Linked DNA regions of Homo sapiens. The protein of the gene in region 2 interacts with the protein of the main gene of each other region in a pairwise test. Each region holds a gene or a part of one and is shown on either strand. Other genes may lie near its edges.

Region 1 (7,027 bases), on a different chromosome or scaffold from region 2:
CTCATTTCTACTAAAAATACAGAAATTAGCTGGGCTTGGTGGCAGGCACCTGTAATCCCAGCTATTCAGGAGGCCAAGCAGGAGAATTGGTTGAACCCGGGAGGCGGTGTTTGCAGTGAGCTGAGATTGCGCCATTGCACTCCAGCCTGAGTGACAAGAGCGATACTCCGTCTCAAAAAATAAAAATAAAAAATAAAAAAAATAGCCCTGGGGACAGTTCTATAGACAGGTCTAGCATTCAATGGACCATTTCAAACTGGTACACTTTTTGTTCCTACCAACACAACACACACACACACACACACACACACACACACACACACACACACACAAAGAAACAGCAACAACAACAACAACAAAAACCAGCACATTGTTCCACTCATCCATCTATTGGTCATTTCTTTGCCTTTTCAAATCGCTTCCTTTCCTCTGAGAGAAATTTGATAAGGCACAGTTTAGTTAGAGCCATAAAGGGTTCCGTCCAAGTACAGGGTCAGGGGGAAGTCCCAATAAAGCCAGACGGTACCTGTGTGCACCAGCAGAATCCTAAGGCACGGACAGGGAAGCAGGAAAGGAGAGGATGGCTGTAAGGATCAAGGAAGGAGAAGAGACAAAGTGCAGAGAAGAAGGAAAAGAGGAAGAGCTGAGTTTGTGGAGCAGACAGCTCAGTGGCATGGGCAGAACCTACTTTGGGGACCTATATTTTGGGAACCTGGCTCCCCAGTACTCAGAGGCAGCATGAAGCAGGGAGATAACCAGGTGGACATGAAGAAGCCAAAGGGAGTCACTCTTATAATACATCATCCAACCTCGGGCACTGCCGGGAGTGAAAGGGGGAATATTCATAGCAATGCTGGGACCACAAGCATAGCCAGGATGTTCCAGGCAAACTGGTCACCTTCACAAGAGCAATGCAAAGAAAGTGCCAGGCATGGCCCAAGGGCTGTCCATGTATTCCCTTATGGAAGCCTCACTACAACCCAATTGGCTAGGCACTGCCATCATGCCCATTTTATAGAAAAGTTAACTGAGGAAGAGAGAGGCACAGTATCATGTCTATGGTCACACAGCCGATACACGGTAGAGGCAGGATTTGAACTCAGGCAGCTTGGCTATTTCAGAGCCTGCACTGTAAGCGTTATGCTCCATTGGCTCTCTACTCACCAACAGCATCCACACAAAGACACCCCCTTCCCCTCACAGGACTCAGGAGAGGGACCTTTGGGGTCTGTTTTCCCTCACAGCTGCTCCAACTGGTCAAGTTAGCATGACGTCATCCGGATGACATAAACAAATTTGCAGTCAGGCTGAGGTGAGGGGGAGGACAACCCTCAGTCAGGTTTGTCCTCTACAGGCTCCACACCTTGTACACAGTGCTGAGTCTTGGCCTCAGGTGTTGGAGTTCTCAGTCATCCTTGCCTTGTAACTGCTCTGCCCTTTCTCTGAAGGCTGAGTTAGATACAGGAAGGACCTCTTGAAGTTCAATATTAGGGACGGGTTCCTCTAGGACCTCATCTGCCTGGGGCAACTAGAGGGTGCCACCCTGTGATGACAAAGTTATCTCCAGGGCCTCTTCCAGCTTGAGGGCTATAGAATTTTCTTTTGTGACAGATTCTTCAGGAGACAGAGCATCCCCCTTGTCGGTGTGTTTTGGCTCCCAGCCCTGGCTTTCTCGGAATGCCAGCGGGACACTTTCTTCCCTTGTCTGTTTGTTGACACATCCTGGATGGGGCTGGCCAAGGGAGGCATTTATGGGGCAGCAGGCTCTATGGTGGGTGGAGTCTGACTCTGGGTGATGCTCCAGGTGTTTCTAGAAGATGCATGGAGGTAGGAGCAGGCAAGCTTCCCCTGTGGTTCAGATTCCAAGGGCCTCTGTCCCCACCCCATCTGTGCTGAAGATCCCTTATTCACACAATAGAGCTGCCCTGCCTGGGGGTGGAAAAATGTGAGGCTGGGCCTGAGAACTTGTGGGAAAGTGGAAACCGTGTTTTACCCAAGCAAGTCCCAGCAGTGAGGTTGGATAGGCTTAACACCCAGTCCTGTGCTCGTAGTGTACCCCTGAGCCTGTGGAACTCTGTGCCCTTCTGGGTGCACCCCTGAGCCTGTGGAACTCTGTGCCCTTCTGGGTGTACCCCTGAGCCTGTGGAACTCTGTGCCCTTCTGGGTGCACCCCTGAGCCTGTGGAGCTCTGTGCCCTTCTGGGTGTACCCCTGAGCCTGTGGAACTCTGTGCCCTTCTGGGTGCACCCCTGAGCCTGTGGAGCTCTGTGCCCTTCTGGGCTTAGTTAGAGGAAAGGTGAGAAGGGTGAGACGTAGCACACGTGCTACAGGTGCACCAGGACAAGCTGGAACCAGCGGGTGTGGCTGCCCTCCTCCCGGAACCTGCACTCGTGTTTCTGGCCAGACAGCTTCCTTTACTCTCTTTTAAACTCACAGCAGCACCAGGGGACGTGGGAGGTTGGCTACCATGACCCAATTACCAGTGCAGACAAGAGGAAAATCTTCTATTACCTGGGTGATTGGTTTATTTTCACTTTGTTTACTTTAGAGATTGCTCAGCATTGAGGTCCAGGATTTGTAGTCCATCAGAGTTCTCTTGGTAAATGGATGCAGCTTTGCCACATTGTCCGCTGCACATAACCACATACCTTCACCCACTGGGATAGAGGGTTGGATTGGTGCTGATGCGGGAGGGAGGCCAGCTTCCTGCAGCCCCACCTTGACCAAAGACGGAACTCCAGGGACTCTCTTTCCACTGCACCTCAAGGTTGATGCACAGAAACACACTGGGCATGGCTGAGAGTTTGGCATAAATGAACTCATCTTTGTAACCGTTTTATGAAATAGGCACTGTTATGATCATCCTCCCCATTTTACAGATGAGGAAGCCATCTTCCTCATCTGTTTCAAGAGGCTGAGTAACTTTTCCAGGGTCACACAGCTGATAAGAGGCCGAGCTGGGATTTGAACCCAGGCAGTCTGGCTCTAGGGCCAAGTCCTCAAGCGTTCCACAGCCTGCCGCCTCTGAATGCTTAGTGCAGAGTCTGGGTTCTACTCTAACCAGTCATATGTCTTTGGGATTAGCCTCTAAACCTGAGTTTCTCTTCTCTTCATTCAAGTGAGAATACAGGAGTTACCTGTTGATCCATGTCAGGTGAGTTAAGGGATGTGAGGAAGCACGTGGTCCACGCACATGTGATCCCATGGGTCATGGTGACATTACCTGTTTTGAGAGCTTGTGGTTGAGTTCCATGCTAAGGGTGTACTCCTCCCCTTGTTGGTCCTTCTCAACCAACTTGTTGAGATGTACTCCTCCCCTTGTTGGTCCTTCACAACTTGTTGTGCTTGTCTTGGATTGAAATTCTCCAGGAGGCAGAAGCAGAGTCTCTCACCTAATTAGCTTCCATGCATGCTAAGTCCCTGCTGTGCCAGCAAAGGGTCCTGCAGGGGGTCTGGTCTAAGAAGAGAGGGGTGGTCCCTGTAGTAGGCATGCATACTCCCTTTGAGGGGATGTCTTTGTTCTGGCAGACAGAACAAAATATCACAGACAACCGAAATTTATTTTCTCACAGTTCTGGAGGCTGGAAGTCTAACATCATGGTGCCAGTTTGGTGGGTGAAGGTTCTCTCCTTGGCTTGCAGAAAGCCACTTTCTTTTTGTGTCCTCACATGGCACAGAGAGGGAGAGAATGGGAGAGGAAGAAGGGAGAGGGAGGGTGGAGGAAGGGTGGGGAAGAGGGAGGAGAGAGAGATGGGGAGAGAGAGAGAGAGAGAGAGCTCTCTGGTGTCTCTTCATGATGGGCACTAATCCCATCATGAGGGCCCCACCCTCATGACCTCATCTAAACCTAATCACCTCCTAAAGTCCTCACCTCCAAATACCATCACATTGAGAGTTAGGGCTTCAACATATGAATTGTCGGGGGGACATAATTTAGCTCATAGCAGGAGATGATATGAAAAATAACCAATGATGTTAGTGTTTATAGGCAAGTAAGTAAAGTATATTTCTCATGGCTTTAGAGAGGAGGTAGGATTTGAGCTGCACCTAGAAGTACAGCCCAGGCTGGGAAGCATTTACAGCACAGGGCCCTGAGGCACAGGAACAGCCCTTCACCCCCTCGACAGGGCCATGCCCTTCTGAAGACATGAATGGGGTCAGGGAGGTCAGCGGGAGGGAGATGAGAGACACTGGCCAGAGAGACACCTCCTGCCTTCAGCCAGGTTTTGTTTTTCTGTAGGGAAGGAGATGGTTTGTCAAAGATACTATTTCTTTTTTCTTTTCTCTTCTCTTTTCTTTCTTTATTTTATTTTATTTTATTTTATTTTATTTTATTTTATTTTATTTTTTGAGACGAAGTTTTGTTCTTGTTGCCCAGGCTGGAGCGCAATGGCATGATCTTGGCTCACTGCAACCTACCTACACCTCCTGGGTTCAAGCGATTCTCCTGCCTCAGCCTCCCAAGTAGCTGGGATTACAGGCATGCACCACCATGCCTGGCTAATTTTTGTATTTTTAGTAGAGACGGGGTTTCTCCATCTTGGCCAGGATGGTCTCAAACTCCAGACCTCAAATGATCTGCCTGCCTTGGCCTCCCAAAGTGCTGAGATTACAGGTGTGAGCCACTGCACCTGGCCTAAAGCTACTATTTCTTAACCTGAGCAGGGCTGAAATTTTAGGGGCTTTCTTCCCAAGGCAGGTTTTGTGAGCAAGACAGCAGCAGCGCCACCATCCCCAGAGGAGGACACGGTGGGATTGAGGGAGGAGGAGTTCTTGGAAGTTCATTTCTGTGGGTAGTGTCATCTGAATCACGGTCAGAAATTGCCATTGGGGAGATACCATCAGGGATAACACATTGTTCAGCAGAAGAACCTCTAGATCTTTCAGTGGTGCCATGGCCTGCGGTAGCTTTTTGGTTTTCGGGTCTTCTGGGAGTTTGGATTGAACAGACACCCCGGATACAGATCATCCACAGGATGGAGATCTTGACTCACAGGGCCTTTGGTGTGGCATCTGGGTGCATGGACACAGCCTTCCCTACAGAATCCCACAGAGGGAAGGCCATCCAACTCTTCTTTATGTTATTTTTATTGGACTGTCTTCAGTGGGCAGAGAGTTGAGGTTTAGGGTTTTTTGTTTGTTTGTTTTTGGATCTTCACTGTTTCATTGTGATAAAATATACATAACATAAAATGTATCATTTTAACCATTTTAAGTATACTGCGCAGTGGCAGTAAGTATATTCACATTGTGAATTGTTTCCTCTTCTCAAACTGATGGGGTTGGAGAAGGTTTGGTTTTAACTGTGGCTCCAGGAAGTCATACAGTGATACCGTCTCAGTTCGCTCTCTGCACAATGGCCTCACCATCAGATGTCCTGTCGACTTGGGTAATCTTTCTGCTGCCATTTCTCTCTTATTCCTTTCTGTTTGTTTGGGTTTAAAAAAAAAATTATCTGCTTCAATCAAAAGCACTTCTGTGAGACTGCCCTCCTGTGGGCTAAGTACTTTGTACAGAACCTTGCATATTTCTCCCCAGGGTCCTGTAAGGTAGTATGATCACCCACCCTTTCCAGATGAGGAAAGTGAGCACCACAGATGTAAGTAACATACCCGAGGCAGTGTAATTTCAGAGCTGGGACTTGATTCTGGACTCTCTGATTCTTCCTGCTTCATCTAGACAGGGGTGTCATTGTACAGAGTCAAGCACAGCTTCCCTGTCTGGGCACATTAGTGTCTACTCGAGAAGGTTTCTAGCATCTGCACGGATCTGGGTTTGTATTATGTGAACCATGTTCCATTAGGATTCTTCACTGGGGCCTTTAGCCAAAAAGGATTCACTTAAAAATAGCTTCATTACATACCACAGATAAACTGCTAATGGAATTTACCAAACTGTTAAATTAAGCTTTTCAACTAATTACACACATACTATGAAAGTGTGAGTTTAGCTTTGACCGTGGATTCCTCCCAAGGCAGAGAATTGGTGCACGTTCTCTGGCTAGCAGGGGTTTGGTCACCATCTCAGCTCCTGTTCTTGGTCATGATCTGTTTTGCTTTCCTGTCCCCTCTTGGTATCTCACCACAGCTTGATTCTGCATTTACTCAGGACACAGTTTGTTCCTAGGCTGTGGTTGTCCTGGCCACAGATACTACAGAGTGTATTTGCTATTTCCCCAGCGAGCATTCTTTCTGGCATCTGACACATCTTCTGCGACGTGTCCTCTGGCACATTTCCTATTGCTCGTCATTACCCTCCCCATGGACTGCAAGCCCCTACTGTGTGTCTCAGAACTCAGATTTTTGGGTTGAACTTTCTTTAGGGCACAGGGTTCTGATGTGGCTTAACTCTGGGAATGAAGTCAGCTGGGGAAACAGCAAAGCATTCAACAAACTTCTGGGTGGGCTGCATGCTTCATAATAAGATAATTTGTCAAATGCCTGCCATGTGCCAGGCATTTTCTGATATAGGTCTTACCATGTCCTTTTTACAGTTGAGGAAACTGAGGCTCAGACAGGTTCAACAACTTGTGTGGGTTCACACCAGACACCTAGTCCCGGTATAGACACCTGCACCGTGGACACCTCCCCCAGGCTGTTGATCCCCCTGTGCCTGACTGGCTTCCTACAAAGGGCCGACCCCTTGGGTTGCAGGGTCTGCTTCATAACAGAGCTCTCTCCACACGCCTGTAAAATGGGAGGCAGAAGCCGCCGACGCCGTATCAGGTGAGCTGCCCCAGGCACAGGCCATCCAGAGATATAGGGATGGAAAAGGCCAGTTTAAAAGTCTGATATAGTACTTCGTTTTAAGGAATGCAGTTTTAGTACATTGAACTGCAGCTTGAAGTGGAACCAGAGACACAAAAAGGAACTGCCAGGTAAAATGAGTGTCAATGAAAAAAGAAAAGTTACTCAGCTTCCATTACGTAGTCACACATCGCAAACTAAACGTATTTTTAAAAAATGTACAAGCCCTATTTACAGAAGTTTGAAATAGAATGAAAAGTTCTAATTTGTACTCAATAGCAG
Region 2 (7,027 bases):
GAAATATGGCTCTGTTCCACCCGGCTCACCGGCAGTCAGAGTTTAAGGTTATCTCTCTTGTTCCCTAAACATTGCTGTTTTCCTGTTCTTTTTTCAAGGTGCCCAGATTTCATATTGTTCAAACACACGTGCTCTACAATTTGTGCAGTTAACGCAATTATCACAGGGTCCTGAGGCGACATACATCCTCCTCAGCTGATTAAGAGATTAAAGTAAAGACAGGCATAGGAAATCACAAGGGTATTGATTGGGGAAGTGATAAGTGTCCGTGAAATCTTCACAATTTATGTTCAGAGATTGCAGTAAAGACAGGCATAAGAAATTATGAAAGTATTAATTTGGGGAACTAATAAATGTCCATGAAATCTTAACAATCCATGTTCTTCTGCCATGGCTTCAGCCAGTCCCTCCGTTTGGGGTCCCTGACTTCCCACAACACATTTGATCTAAGTCCTCCCATCTTTGCCTGGATCTGACGTACTTTCAACCACTTCTCTGCTCATCATTTGGTTTTATTTCACCTTTTCTACCAAAGTTTGAAACATAATATTTGTAAAGCAACAAAGTTACCTGTATTCAATATGAATTTACTCTTCTATTTTCTACCACTGTCTCACCTTAATTCTTTCACTGTGTGTGTGTGTGTGTGTGTGTGTGTGTGTGTGTGTTTCTGTTTTGTATTCCAAACCAAAGGAAAAAGAGAACTATGCATTTGTAATTATTTTTATTTATGGAGATTGGCTCTAAAGCCAGAGTCAACCCCACAATGGGGGCTCTTGAATACCAGTACCTTTCCATAGCTAGTGTGTTCAGATTTACAAAGTTTGTTTACTATTTTTCCTTTTTAGAAGCCTGGAGAGTTGATGACCTGATAGAGAGAATCCAAGAAAACGAAGACAAACATTCAAGGCAAGCTGCTTGTATCAATAGCAAAACCCTGACTGAAGAGAAAGAGAATACATTTAGTCAAATTTACATGGAAACAAGCCTTGTTCCTTCAAGCATAATAGCTCATAATTGTGTCTCATGTGGAAAGAATTTAGAATCTATTTCGCAATTAATTAGTAGTGATGGAAGCTATGCTAGGACAAAACCTGATGAGTGTAATGAATGTGGGAAAACATATCATGGAGAGAAAATGTGTGAATTTAATCAAAATGGGGATACCTATTCTCACAATGAAGAAAATATTCTTCAGAAAATTAGTATTTTGGAGAAACCCTTTGAATATAATGAATGCATGGAAGCCTTAGACAATGAGGCTGTTTTTATTGCTCATAAGAGAGCTTACATAGGGGAGAAGCCCTATGAGTGGAATGATTCTGGACCAGACTTCATACAGATGTCAAATTTTAATGCATATCAGAGATCACAAATGGAAATGAAGCCCTTTGAATGCAGTGAATGTGGAAAATCCTTCTGTAAAAAGTCAAAATTCATCATCCACCAGAGGGCTCACACAGGAGAGAAACCTTATGAATGTAATGTATGTGGGAAATCCTTCAGCCAAAAGGGAACCCTCACTGTACATCGGAGATCACACTTAGAGGAGAAGCCCTATAAATGTAATGAATGTGGGAAAACCTTTTGTCAGAAGTTACACCTCACTCAACACCTAAGAACTCATTCAGGAGAGAAACCCTACGAATGTAGCGAATGTGGGAAAACCTTCTGCCAAAAGACACATCTCACCCTGCACCAGAGGAATCATTCAGGAGAGAGGCCCTATCCATGTAACGAATGTGGGAAATCCTTCTCCCGCAAGTCTGCTCTCAGTGACCATCAGAGAACTCACACGGGAGAGAAGCTTTATAAATGTAATGAATGTGGGAAATCCTACTACCGAAAGTCTACTCTGATTACACATCAGAGAACACACACGGGAGAGAAGCCCTATCAGTGTAGCGAGTGTGGGAAATTCTTTTCTCGGGTGTCATACCTCACTATACATTATAGAAGTCATTTAGAAGAGAAACCCTATGAATGTAATGAATGTGGCAAAACCTTCAATTTAAATTCAGCCTTCATTAGACATCGGAAAGTACACACAGAAGAGAAATCCCATGAATGTAGTGAATGTGGAAAGTTCTCTCAGTTGTATCTCACCGACCATCATACAGCTCATTTAGAAGAGAAACCCTATGAATGTAATGAATGTGGGAAAACCTTCCTTGTAAATTCAGCCTTCGATGGGCACCAGCCACTTCCAAAAGGGGAGAAATCCTATGAATGTAATGTATGTGGAAAGTTATTCAATGAGTTGTCATACTATACTGAACATTATAGAAGTCATTCAGAAGAGAAACCTTATGGATGTAGCGAATGTGGGAAAACCTTTTCCCATAATTCATCCCTCTTCAGACATCAAAGAGTACACACAGGCGAGAAACCCTATGAATGTTACGAATGTGGAAAATTCTTCTCTCAGAAATCATATCTCACTATACATCATCGAATTCATTCAGGAGAGAAACCCTATGAATGTAGTAAATGTGGAAAAGTCTTCTCTCGGATGTCAAACCTCACTGTCCACTACAGAAGCCATTCAGGAGAGAAACCCTATGAATGTAATGAATGTGGGAAAGTCTTTTCTCAGAAGTCATACCTCACTGTACACTATAGAACTCATTCAGGAGAGAAACCCTATGAATGTAACGAGTGTGGGAAAAAATTCCACCACAGATCAGCCTTCAATAGCCATCAGAGAATTCATAGAAGAGGAAATATGAACGTACTTGATGTGGAAAATCTCTGAAGTCAGATCTCAATTTTTAGAAAACTCTCTGAATATAATGAATATGGGGAATCCAATAGGAAGTCAAAGCGTTTATCTGAGAGTTCGTGTTCCTGAACGGTGAGAAGCATTTAGGCATTAGAGTCATTTTAATCCAAATTTTCACAGAGAAGAATCCCGAAGAATGTAACAAGAAGCAAAGCCTTCAGCAAGATCATACGACTCATCGGACACTAATTTATATAGGAGTGAAGTTTTATAAATATTTAATATTTATTTTGGATTCAAATTGTATTTACATATCAGGGAATCATACAAAGGCAAAATCTGTCAATATGGTGAATGTGGAAAATATATTGTCTTGGAAATTTGTTGTAAAAGCCATATTTCTAATGGAAAATCAGGTGTTTACAGGAAAGATCTCAGAGGCTATGAGCTCTGAATAAATCTTCATTGTATAAAATGAAGTTTTTAAATTGTCAGGAGTTGATCATGAGGACAGTAGCATTAAATAAGTATATGGCCGTTTTTTATCATGTCTTAAAAATGCAATCTAATGGTAATTCTATGCAAGTTTGGAATTGGATGACTTGTGAAGAGGCAGTTTTCTTATTTGAGTATTAGGATGGCAAAATGTATTAAGACAGGACATATTGTTGGTGAGATAATATTTAATAGGTATAAAATGGTAAAATACCTAGTTTTCTATTTAGAGGAATTTACAAATGGGTTTTTAACAAATGCCTCATTAGTACAGGAGGCAGTCGTTTTGTAAAGTTTTCAACTGCATCTGAGTAAGATAAGATTTTCTAAAAGACTATTTTGATAAACTATACATACATAATTTGGAATTGTTTAAGTCTATTTCAGTGAAAGAGAACAAGCATACTGCCCATACTCTAAAATATCCCCAGCTCTCACACCACCCTTGTTTTTTAACCCATAGGTTTGAGTGTGCCTAGTGCCAATATTTTGTAATTTAGAAATTTTATTCACAAACTTCTGTTTGGTACAAATACAGTGTCATTGTTTTGTGCATTCTCCTTTTTCCCAGTATTTCAGAACAAATTGATTCAAGTTTCTAGCAGATATTTTTTGATCAATTAACTTAATGTCCTCGCTCCATTTCTTGCTGGAACAGTTTAGGTACCTACCACTTCTTCACATGACACAGGGGAATCCTGATTAGTCAAAATAATAATGATTTCATTCTCTTTGCCAGTAACTTGTTTTATAGTGGTCATATGACCTGATACTGGGTAAACAAAACAAAGATGGACTTGTTCTGGGAAAAGGTAAAATGGTAATCAAATAGATTGTGTTCCAGGAATGCAAAGGTGGCTTAATATTCACAAGTCAGTTGCTATTATACACCACCTGTAGAAAAGTAATCTGGCATGCAGAACATTCTTGTGGTACAATTAATGTTCGTTTATGATCTTAGCAAATGATGGATTGAAAGGGACTTACTTAACTGCATAAAGAGACTTAAACTACAACAAACAATATGCTTAATGATGAAATAGTGAACATTTCTCCTAAGATTATAAAAATAAGACAAGGATATCTGCTGTCAATGATTTTATTCGGCATTGTTCAGAAGGACCTAACCAGAAAACTAATGCAAGGAAGAGAAACAAAAGGCATAGAGATTAGAAAAGAAGTAAAACTTTAAAAACGAAAAAGAATATAAATCTCTATTTGCAGATGCCATGAGTAAATTTGGTAAGTTCCCTGCATAAAAGTTATGCAAAAAGCATTTTATGATATACCAGCAAAAAACATGGAAAATGAAATTTTGAAAAGCAATGCCACTTCAAAGATCCCTCAAGTGCCTAGAGGGAGAAAATGAGTTAATATGCTTTGAAGAACTGTATCCAGAAAATAAAATTACAAAGGAGGAGAGGGATAGGATTCCAGGACAATCTCAAAACTATTGCTTTTTCCTAAATTCATTGCAACCTTAAAATCCTAGCAAGTTCTTTAATGTAAATTAACAAGCTAATTCTAGAATTCATATGCATATTCAAAAGTCGAATAATTGTCAAGGCTATCCTGTAGAATGGACAGAGAGGATTGAAATTTCTAAATATCAAGACCTGTTATAAAGCCATAGAAATAATGAAGGTGTTAATTTGGCACAAGGATGAAAAAACTGACTAGTGGAACAGCATACAGATTCAAAAGTAGACCCACGTGTATACCATCACCTGAGTTTTGAGAAAGGTGACATTGAAGTGTAGTGGGGGAAAGGGTGTTCTTTCCAGTAAATGTACTTTGCCAATAAAATTTTGTAATTTGATAAAAAGTTATTTGGAGGTGGATTGCAGATCTGAATATGAAATGTGAAAGCTTTACAAAGAAATCTTAGGACAGTTTGTAATCTTGGAGTAAGCAAAGGTTTATTGAGACCCAAAAAGCATTAACCCATAAAATTAGAACTTAATATTAAATTTGAGAACTTCTATTTATCAGAAAGACCACCAGTAAGAAAATGAACAGGAAATCATGGGGAGGAGAAGATATTTGCAGTTCATGTATGTGACAACAGCACCGAGTATAGCAGAAGTGTTGGCAAACTTTATAAAGCAAGGCACCAGATGGTGAAAATTTTCAGCTTTGTCACAACTGCTCATCTTTGCTATTGTGTGAAAGCATCCATACACCATGCATTAAAAAAAAAATGAGCATGGCTGCTTCCCAGTAAAACCATTCACAATCCCAGGTGGCAGTCTGGATTTGGTCTGCACTCATAGTTTTCTGGTCCCTGATCTCGAATATGTAAAGAGCACCTACAAATCAACAAGGGGGAAACTGGAAAAGGCAAAAGACTTTAGAGGATATCCACTCACTTTAGAGGATATCCAGACGGCCAATAAGCATGAAAAGATGTGTTAGCTTTATTAGTAATCAGGGAAATGCAAACTTAAAACATGTAGCACTGCTACCCATCCATGGAAATGGTTAAAATGAAAAGCATGAAAAAGCATCACGTTTTGGCAAGGATGTAAGCAAGAGGAACTGTACACTACTGGTGGAATTGCTCATCGATAAAACCATTTTGAAAGCTGGCACTAAAAGCCAAGCATATGTATACTGTTTTACCCAAACCCAGCAAAAATGCATGTGTCTGTCCACCAAAGGACATGCACTAGAATATTTATAGCCTAAAACTGCACAAAACAGAACTATCTTAAGGCACATGTGCAATGGAATGAATAAAGAAGTGGCATATGTCCATGGAATACTGTAAAACAGTGAGCATGAATGAACTAGAAGTCCGTGTAATAACGCAGCTGAATTTAACAAACCTTGCTGAATGAAAGACTCCAGACACAAAAGCCAACATGCTGTATGATTCCTTCTATATAAATTATAAAGACGGGCAAAACTTGTATACGTGGTTTAAAATTAGGGTAGCAGTTAGCCTTGGCCAAGGCTGAAAGGGGGCATTTATCTGGTGCTGGGAATAATCTGTTTCTAAACCTAGGTGCTAAGTATTTGAGTGTGTTTTGAGCTGTGCACTTAAGATATGTGTATTTTTCTGCATGTGTGTTAAACTTTCCATAAAAGTTTTCTAAAATCACAAATGGCTAACATTTGTGTCGCTCATCACTCTAATCATATTTTTCTAGATGTGTATGAATATGCTGCACAACAGGAATTAAATGGCAGATTTTGCATAATTCTGTGCAGGAAATACATATTTATAGTAATTTTGATGGCAACTACTAAGATTTCCTACGCTGTCCTTAAAGCTTAGCATAATGTATATTTTAAGTGAAATATTTGAGAAGGTTAAAGAATCATTACATACTTTGTCATCCTATACTTTTGCATATATAAATAGGTCTGAGCTGCCTCTTCAATAAAGAAGCTAATGTGTAACATTTCATATTTCCCTAAACAAATTGTTTTTTGCATTTCTGAATTCGGGATTCATCTTAACTTTTACTGTAGGGGTGACCTTTCTTGGCAGTGAATGAATATAATGCTGAGTTGGATTTGATGGAAAATTATTTTAAAAGTATTCAGCTAAATATTTGAGCAAATCTCAGATACACAGTTAACAGCCCAGATGTAAGTGAGTGAAAGAAACAGGTCAGCAAAACTTTGCACCATTGAAAAAAAAAAAACACTTTGGGTGAGGGCTGGCTGAGCTTGTAAAAGCACAGCAAGAAGGACGTGACATTGGATGGCATAGACTGTGTGCCTCTTTTTTTTTTTTTTTTTTTTTTTTGGTGGGAAGGCATTTGTTTTTTGTTTTTCTTTCTCTTATTTTTAGAGTCAAGT
Region 3 (6,844 bases), on a different chromosome or scaffold from region 2:
TTCCTGGTGGAAGGATCCCTTGGATGGGACCAGAAAGGGGCACCGTGTGTCTGGAAGCTGCCCACTGGCTGGGACTCCTGGGGGAGCGGGAGGGGCAGGGAGTTTCAGGCTCACTGTGCGTGTACACCCTGCCTGGCCCAGGTCCTCTTCCAAGGCCTTCTGGTAGAGTTTCTCTGACTAACCTGCTGTCCCCAGGAAAGGCTGTCCCAAGCCAAGCCTGGAAGTCCCCATTGGCCATGGTATCCATTTTGAGGGGTTAATGGTCTTCCCTCAGGAGGTGACACTGCCACCTGGAGCTGGGTGCATTCTGCCTGGTGCCCTGCTGACCCCAACTGCCTTTCCCCTCTGGAAGGCAGCGAACATCTGAGCTCAGGGACGAGCCCTGCTTGAGGTCAGACAGACATGCTGTCTTCATCCAGGCTGCACCCAGGCCAGATAGACCAGCAAAATCTCTGCCCGCGACTCCTCGCTGTCTACCCTGGCTCAGGCGTCTGCCAGGCCACTCGCAGGAGCCACCGAGAGGCCCTTTCCTCCCTGCCGGGGGACCCCCAAAATAACCTGTGGATGCCAAGCAGCAGGACACTGCGGTGGATGCCAGGCCGCAGTCGGAGGCTGGACGGGGAGCCCTGTCCCGTGAGCTTGCTCAGTCTGCCCCAACCACCCCCTTGGGCCTACCGACATAACTTATGATCCGTTTGAGAATCCATCAGGGATCCTTGTGAGTCCCCGACCTGCAGTTCTAGATTCATCATTTGAAAAAGCCTCTGGCCCTGGATGCATTTCCTGTTTTCAGGATTCCTCGCCTTCTGACTGCTCTCCCAGCATCTCTAGCTCACGGAGTTCACAAACTTCAGTCCCCTACAGCTCCTTGCACTTTTGTTCTATTTTTTTTAATGTTTTATTTACTTATTTATGTATTTATTTTTATGAAACGGTGTCAGTTTGTCACCTGGGCTGGTGGTGCAGTCTTGGCTCACTGCAGCCTCCACCTGCCGGGTTCAAGCAATTGTCCTGCCTCACCTTCCCAAGAAGCTGGAATTACAGGCATGCACCACCACGCCCAGCTAATTTTGTATTTTTATTAGTAGAGATAGGGTTTCACCCTGTTGGCCAGGCTGGTCTTGAACCTTATTTTTATCTTTTTTAATTTTAATTTTTTTTGAGTGAGTTTTGCTCTTGTCACCCAGGCTGGAGTGCAATGGCACGATCTTGGCTCACTGCAACCTCCACCTCCCAGGTTCAAGCGATTCTCCTGCCTTAGCCTCCCTAGTAGCTGGGATTACAGGCGCCCGCCACAACACCCAGCTAATTTTTGTATTTTTAGTAGAGGCAGCGTTTCACCACGTTGGCCAGGATGGTCTCGAATTCCTAACCCCAGGTGATCACCCACCTCGGCCTCCCAAAGTGCTGGGATTACAGGTGTGAGCCACCACACCTGGCCTATTTTTATTTTTTAATATAGACACGATCTCACTCTGTCACCCGAGCTGGAGTGCAGTGGCCTGATCAAGGCTCACTGCAGCCTCAGCCTCCTGTGCACAAGCAATCGTCCTACCTCATCCTCCCAGGTAGCTGGGACTATAGGCACGTGCCATCATGCCTGGCTAATCTTTTGATTTTTTTTAGAGATGTGGTCTCACTGTGTTGCGCAGGCTGGTCTGAAACGCCTGGCCTCAAGAGATCCTCCTACCTTGGCCTCCCAAAGTGCTGGGATTACAGGTGAGAGCTGCCCTGCCCAGCCTTTTTTGTTCTTTGTAAAGCTCTTCAGTTCCTGCTCCTTACCCGCTGGGCCCTGCTCTTTCTGCTTTGGAGCAGTTCTTCCTTCAGCAGGGAGCCAGTGTTCTGTGGGTTGGGGGGTCTCTGCCAGCAGCCAGTTTCAGCCCTGTCTTGCAGGTGGCCTTCGGAGGGACAGGTTGCAGCCCAGGCCCGCCCCCCTCCTTCCTGGAGTGTCTCACAGACTCAGGGGACACTGGCCCTCCAGGCCCTGCTTCCCCCAAGGTTTCCATCCATCGCCTCTTGATTCTTGGTAATCGGGAGCCGATGGATGCAACTCATCTCGGTTTACACTGAGTGAGACAGGCGCTGTGGGCACAGCCAAGTCTGCGGGACTCAGTCAGGTGTGAGCCTGGATGGCCCCGGACAAGGAAGCCTGTCCTCTTGCTGGGAAATTTCCGTTAAGATCGGGCCACTTCCCCTGCTTCCTAACGGTTGAGTCTGTTTGCTCTGGGCCTTTTAAGCCCAGCGTGATCCCTCTGAGTCCCTGCGGTGCATTTGCGCCATCTCCACGCTTCCTGTTGAGCCCCAGCCCAGGCTTGGTGCGGGCAGTGCTGCACTGCACTCTCCTGGTTGCCTCCTGAGCACCTCCACCCGCTTCCCCACCAGGCGTGGCTGTGTTTTCACCCCCAGTGTCCATCTGGCACCCTTCTCGATTGCCAGGTAGTTACGGTCTGTGTGGGCAACACCTGAGGGACCCAACCAAACCAAGGTCCAGGACACACTTCCGGGCAGGGGTACCGCCTCTGGTTAGCTGCTCACTCCCCAGCCCAAATCTTCCGCTGATGACTTCTGGGGTCAGAGGCCACCTAAGGGTCTAGAAAACAGTCTCCTCCAGTTGGCTACCTGCCTACGTTGGGGTTACGGCCCAATAAACCCACAGCCAAGCTGAAAATCCTAAGTGTGCGTCTTGCGCTTCCGACACAGCCAGGGCATCGCTGGATGCGCAGAGGCAGGGCTGGACACATTCTGGTGCTTGAGGGGTTCCAGGGACCACGAGTTGTTTTTCCGGTGCTCCTCACCCTTCGCCCTGGAGGGTGGGGGAGGCCGGACAGCAGTGACCAAGCTGGAGCTGCAGGTCTTCATCCCTGTGGCCCAGCCCTAAAGCAGCCTTGGGGACTTAAATTTCATTTTGCCCAGCAGGTGCACCTGGGCCAGGAACACACCAGCGCCTCCTTGTTCTTCGCAGGGAAGTGGAATCCAAGCAGGGGCCCAGATGCAGGCAGGCATCTCCTGGGAACAAGAGCCCCAGAATCCACCCCGGGGCCCCACTTCCAGGGTGGTTGCCTGGGGCGTCTGGTCAGAGCCAGACCAGAACTGAGCAGGAGCTTCCGGGCATCTGTGTGTGGGAAGGGAGAGGCAAGTCCTTCCTAACCGCCTTTTTTCCCAGTTTTCATTCAGTCTGGCCCCAAGCAGGTTCTTTTTTTCTTTTCTTTTTCTTTTTTTTTTTTTTTTTTTTGAGATGGAGTCTCGCTCTGTCGCCCAGGCTGGAGTGCAGTGGCGCGATCTCAGCTCACTGCAACCTCTGCCTCCCGGATTCAAGCGATTCTACTGCCTCAGCTTCCTGAGTAACTGGGATTACAGGCGTGAGCCACCGCGCCCGGCTCCCGAAGCCGGTTTTCTGTTCTCTTGCAGCTGGGCCGGGGCTGAGCCCTCGGTGGGGGCAGGGGTTGCAGACCTGTGGACGCAGGGCCCACGCCGCACACACGTGGCCCCCGCCAGGTGACTCACGAGCCAGCGCCTGCGCGGCGGGGTGGCCACCGGGTGCAGGTTCAGGGCCAGGGGCCGGGCCTCCTGGGGATTGGCAGGGCGCCCGCCGCGGTCCCATGTGCCTGGGGCCGGTCCCCGGGCGGTGGCCTTCGGCCCTGCGCTCCGGCCTGGAGAAGGGAGGACGCCAGGGGCCCGGGGGAGTGGAGGCGGCCACGCAGCAGCCCCGGAGCACCCGCGCGTCCGCAGGCCGGGCCCACCGCGCTCGGCGCCCCTCGCGGCCGCTTTAAGGCGCCGGGCCCGCCTCAATCGCAGGGGGCGTGGCCTAGCGGTCCCGCCCCCGGGGCGCGCGCGCGCATTGGCTGTGCGGGGTGCGGGCGCGCGGGCGGCGCTTTGAACCGGGCGCGGGGCGCGGGGCGCGGGGCGCTGCGGCCGGTACACGCCGGGGTAGGGCCGGGGTCGGGTTGTGGTCGGGCCGGGATTGGGCTCTCCTGGGCCATGGCAGCCGAGGCGCGCGTGTCGCGCTGGTACTTCGGGGGGCTGGCCTCCTGCGGGGCCGCCTGCTGCACGCACCCGCTGGACCTGCTCAAGGTGAGGCCGGGGCCCGGGACGCGGGGCGGATGGGACCCTGGCGCCGCCGAGACGCCTGCAAAGGCAGCAGCCCGGCCCCACGCACCCGGGGATCGCCGCGCCCGGGGCTCCCTCCTGGAGAGCGCGAGGAGGCCCCCGACGCCCGGATGGCCGATCCCGGGTGGCCCTCCAGTGGTGGCCGCCGAGCTCGAGGCCTGCAGGGCGCAGCCGCGCTCCCCAGCTTCCCAGCCGGCTTCCCAGTTCTCGGCAGGTGGCGATCCAGCCCCAGCTCTACACTTTAATACCTGGTGACCTTGGGGGAGTCACTTGGCCTCTCTGAGCCACCCACCCCCATACATTCAAGAACGCTCCTTCCGCCTAGTTAGAAGTTGTGGGGGGAGTTCTGTGAGGTGCACAGGTGTTGGCATCTAGAGACGTGCTGGCTGTAGCATACCCAGGGTGTGGGCCAAGCCGCCCCCCACCCAGGGGTGTTTAGCACACCGCCGGACGTGTCCCTGGGCAAGTGGGGTGACCCGATGCCCCGGCTTTGGGCTGCTTCCTTCGGAGAGCTGCGTGGGCACTGGAAGCGATGTTAGGACCAGCACACCCCCAGGAGAGATGCCAGGAGACCCTGCACGCGTGTGGTCCTGGCCCTATGAAAGCGGGCGTTTCTCAGCACGAGAAGCAGCCACCGTTTTTTTACTTTTTTTTTTTTTTTAATGCTTATGGGGCAAAATAAGACAGAGCTCTCCTTGTTTCCCAGGGACAGCCAAGGGGCGTTGTTTTCTGACCGTGTCTTGCCACAGAGAACAAAGAAGAAAGGGCCTGAGGCTTTGCACAGTCTGCCCAGCAGGCCCTGCCCTGTGAACCTGGCTGTGGTCACTGGGCAGCCGCCTGTCTAGGGGACCTTTATTTTAGCAGCCTGTCCAGGGGACTTGTATTCCAGCAGCCTTTGAGGGGACTGGCTTTACTAATGAGCAACAATGCTGGTCGCTGCGTGAAGGCCAGGTGAGCAGATGTGGGCGTCTTGGGGCACCTGAGACCTCACTGGTCCTGGGAGAGGCCTTCAGAGCTCCCAGGCCACAGGCAGCCACGGCCAGTGAGATGCAGCCACAGCGACAGGAAGGCGCTGGCATGGGCAGAAGAAGCGAGCCCCTCCTTGGCATCGGGCTCTTCCTTTCCTCCTGGGCGCCGCACAGGTGCCCCTCCCCCAGGGCCTCTCCCACGTTCATCTGGGTGTTGAAGGCGGGACCTGCGTGCTGCTGTCCCTTGTCCGGGGTCTGAGCCCCACTGCCCCTTGGCCCTCCCCAACCAGGCGCTCTCTGGCTGCAGAACACCGCCTGGGGGAGGCGGGACTGCCCTCTGGCCTGGGAGGGCGGGAGGAGCCAGCTGCTGGCAGCATATGGCGCTGTGGTCAGGGTGTGCTCCTGAGGACTGCTCACCAGGCCTCTCTGCCTGGCCGTCGGAAAGATCTTTTAAAGCTTCTTGAGCACTTTGTCCCATGTCCCTACAGTCCCTACCGTCGCATCTGGCCGGGACGGGGGCTGCTACCTGTGTGGCCCAGTCCCTCTGTTCTGCTGGGCTCGCACAATGGGAGGCCCCTCTCTGTCCCCACCCATCTTTGCCGACCCCTGGGCGTGCGTTACGGGGCCGCGCACGTGCAGGTCACACTGAGCGGCGGAAGGACTTCTTTGGGGTCAGTGCTGGGGGTGGGACCCAGGAGCTGGGATCCTGGGCCAGGTGCTGGCCTTCCTGTCTGGCCCTGGCCAATCCCCCTACTGCCGGGAGCTCTCAGCTGGCCAGGCGAGGAGGCAGAGGTCCTGTGAGTGGTGGAGGCCAACAGAATGGGAGGTTGTCGGGCTGACAGCCCCCGAGTGCCTGCCCACAGCTCCTAGGTGCTTTGCAGAGGAGGCCGCTATGCCCTGCCGCCAGCCACACCGTCCCCTTGTCTGCTGCTGAGCTCCTGCTGCCTTTCAAGGCCTTCTATGGCTACCTCCTCAGTCTCCCATGGTCCTGCAGGCTCCCTCGCCGTTTCTGAGCGGCCATAAACGTTTGTCCCTCTTGAGACGTGGTGTGGTGGATAAAAAGTAGGGCTCTGGGGTCTCCTCGCTGGGCCCAAATCCTGATGGCACCAGCGGGTGCGTTACCTCTCCATGCCTCAGTTTCCTCATCTGCAGAAGGAGAATGGCGAGCCCCTGCGGCCAGTGCAGCCAATACTCAGGTGGTACGCGGGGCGCTCGCGGGGCTCGCGGACACTCTCAGCTCCATGTCCACTGGTGTGGTTGCTGTTGGAAAGCAGTGGTGTGAGCTGGTTCCAGGCACGGGTGTGGAGTCCCCGGGCAGGGCCGTGGGAGGCCTTATCACTGCCTCCTGCCTCAGTTTCCCCCTCTCTGGATGAACCTGGCACCGATCCCTCGGGGTCGCTGTGGGGTCTGAGAGCACTCACTCCCGCAGGTGCATCTGCAGACGCAGCAGGAGGTGAAGCTGCGCATGACGGGCATGGCGCTGCGGGTGGTGCGTACCGACGGCATCCTGGCACTCTACAGCGGCCTGAGCGCCTCGCTGTGCAGACAGGTGCGTGGTGTGTGCCAGCCTTGGGCTCCCAGACTGGGGCTGAGTCCTGCAGTGGCATCCAAGCTACTTCCGTCCCCTTTTCAAGACTTTGTGCAAGGAAGGACCCACCAGGCCGAGAGCTGGTGACCCCAGGGTGCGCCTCCCATGGGCACCCACCCAGTTTGCAGGGCTGGGCCTGAGACCGCCACTTACTGGTGGGGAAGCTGAGGCCCAGGGAGTG

The links.
Region 1: the proteins of RBAK (region 2) and CRACR2A interact in binary tests that used the Homo sapiens proteins (3 or more experiments, as listed by UniProt).
Region 3: the proteins of RBAK (region 2) and SLC25A10 interact in binary tests that used the Homo sapiens proteins (3 or more experiments, as listed by UniProt).

The regions. Positions count from the first base shown.
Region 1 is NC_000012.12:3,743,101-3,750,127, reverse strand, and holds part of CRACR2A (EF-hand calcium-binding domain-containing protein 4B), read left to right. Parts: intron 1-7,027.
Region 2 is NC_000007.14:5,062,847-5,069,873, forward strand, and holds the end of RBAK (RB-associated KRAB zinc finger protein), read left to right. Parts: intron 1-848; coding exon 849-2,755; 3' UTR 2,756-6,641; downstream 6,642-7,027. UniProt on the Homo sapiens protein: May repress E2F-dependent transcription. May promote AR-dependent transcription.
Region 3 is NC_000017.11:81,708,449-81,715,292, forward strand, and holds the start of SLC25A10 (mitochondrial dicarboxylate carrier), read left to right. Parts: upstream 1-3,835; 5' UTR 3,836-3,978; coding exon 3,979-4,071; intron 4,072-4,820; exon of another isoform or gene 4,821-5,058; intron 5,059-6,504; coding exon 6,505-6,624; intron 6,625-6,844. UniProt on the Homo sapiens protein: Catalyzes the electroneutral exchange or flux of physiologically important metabolites such as dicarboxylates (malonate, malate, succinate), inorganic sulfur-containing anions, and phosphate, across mitochondrial inner membrane.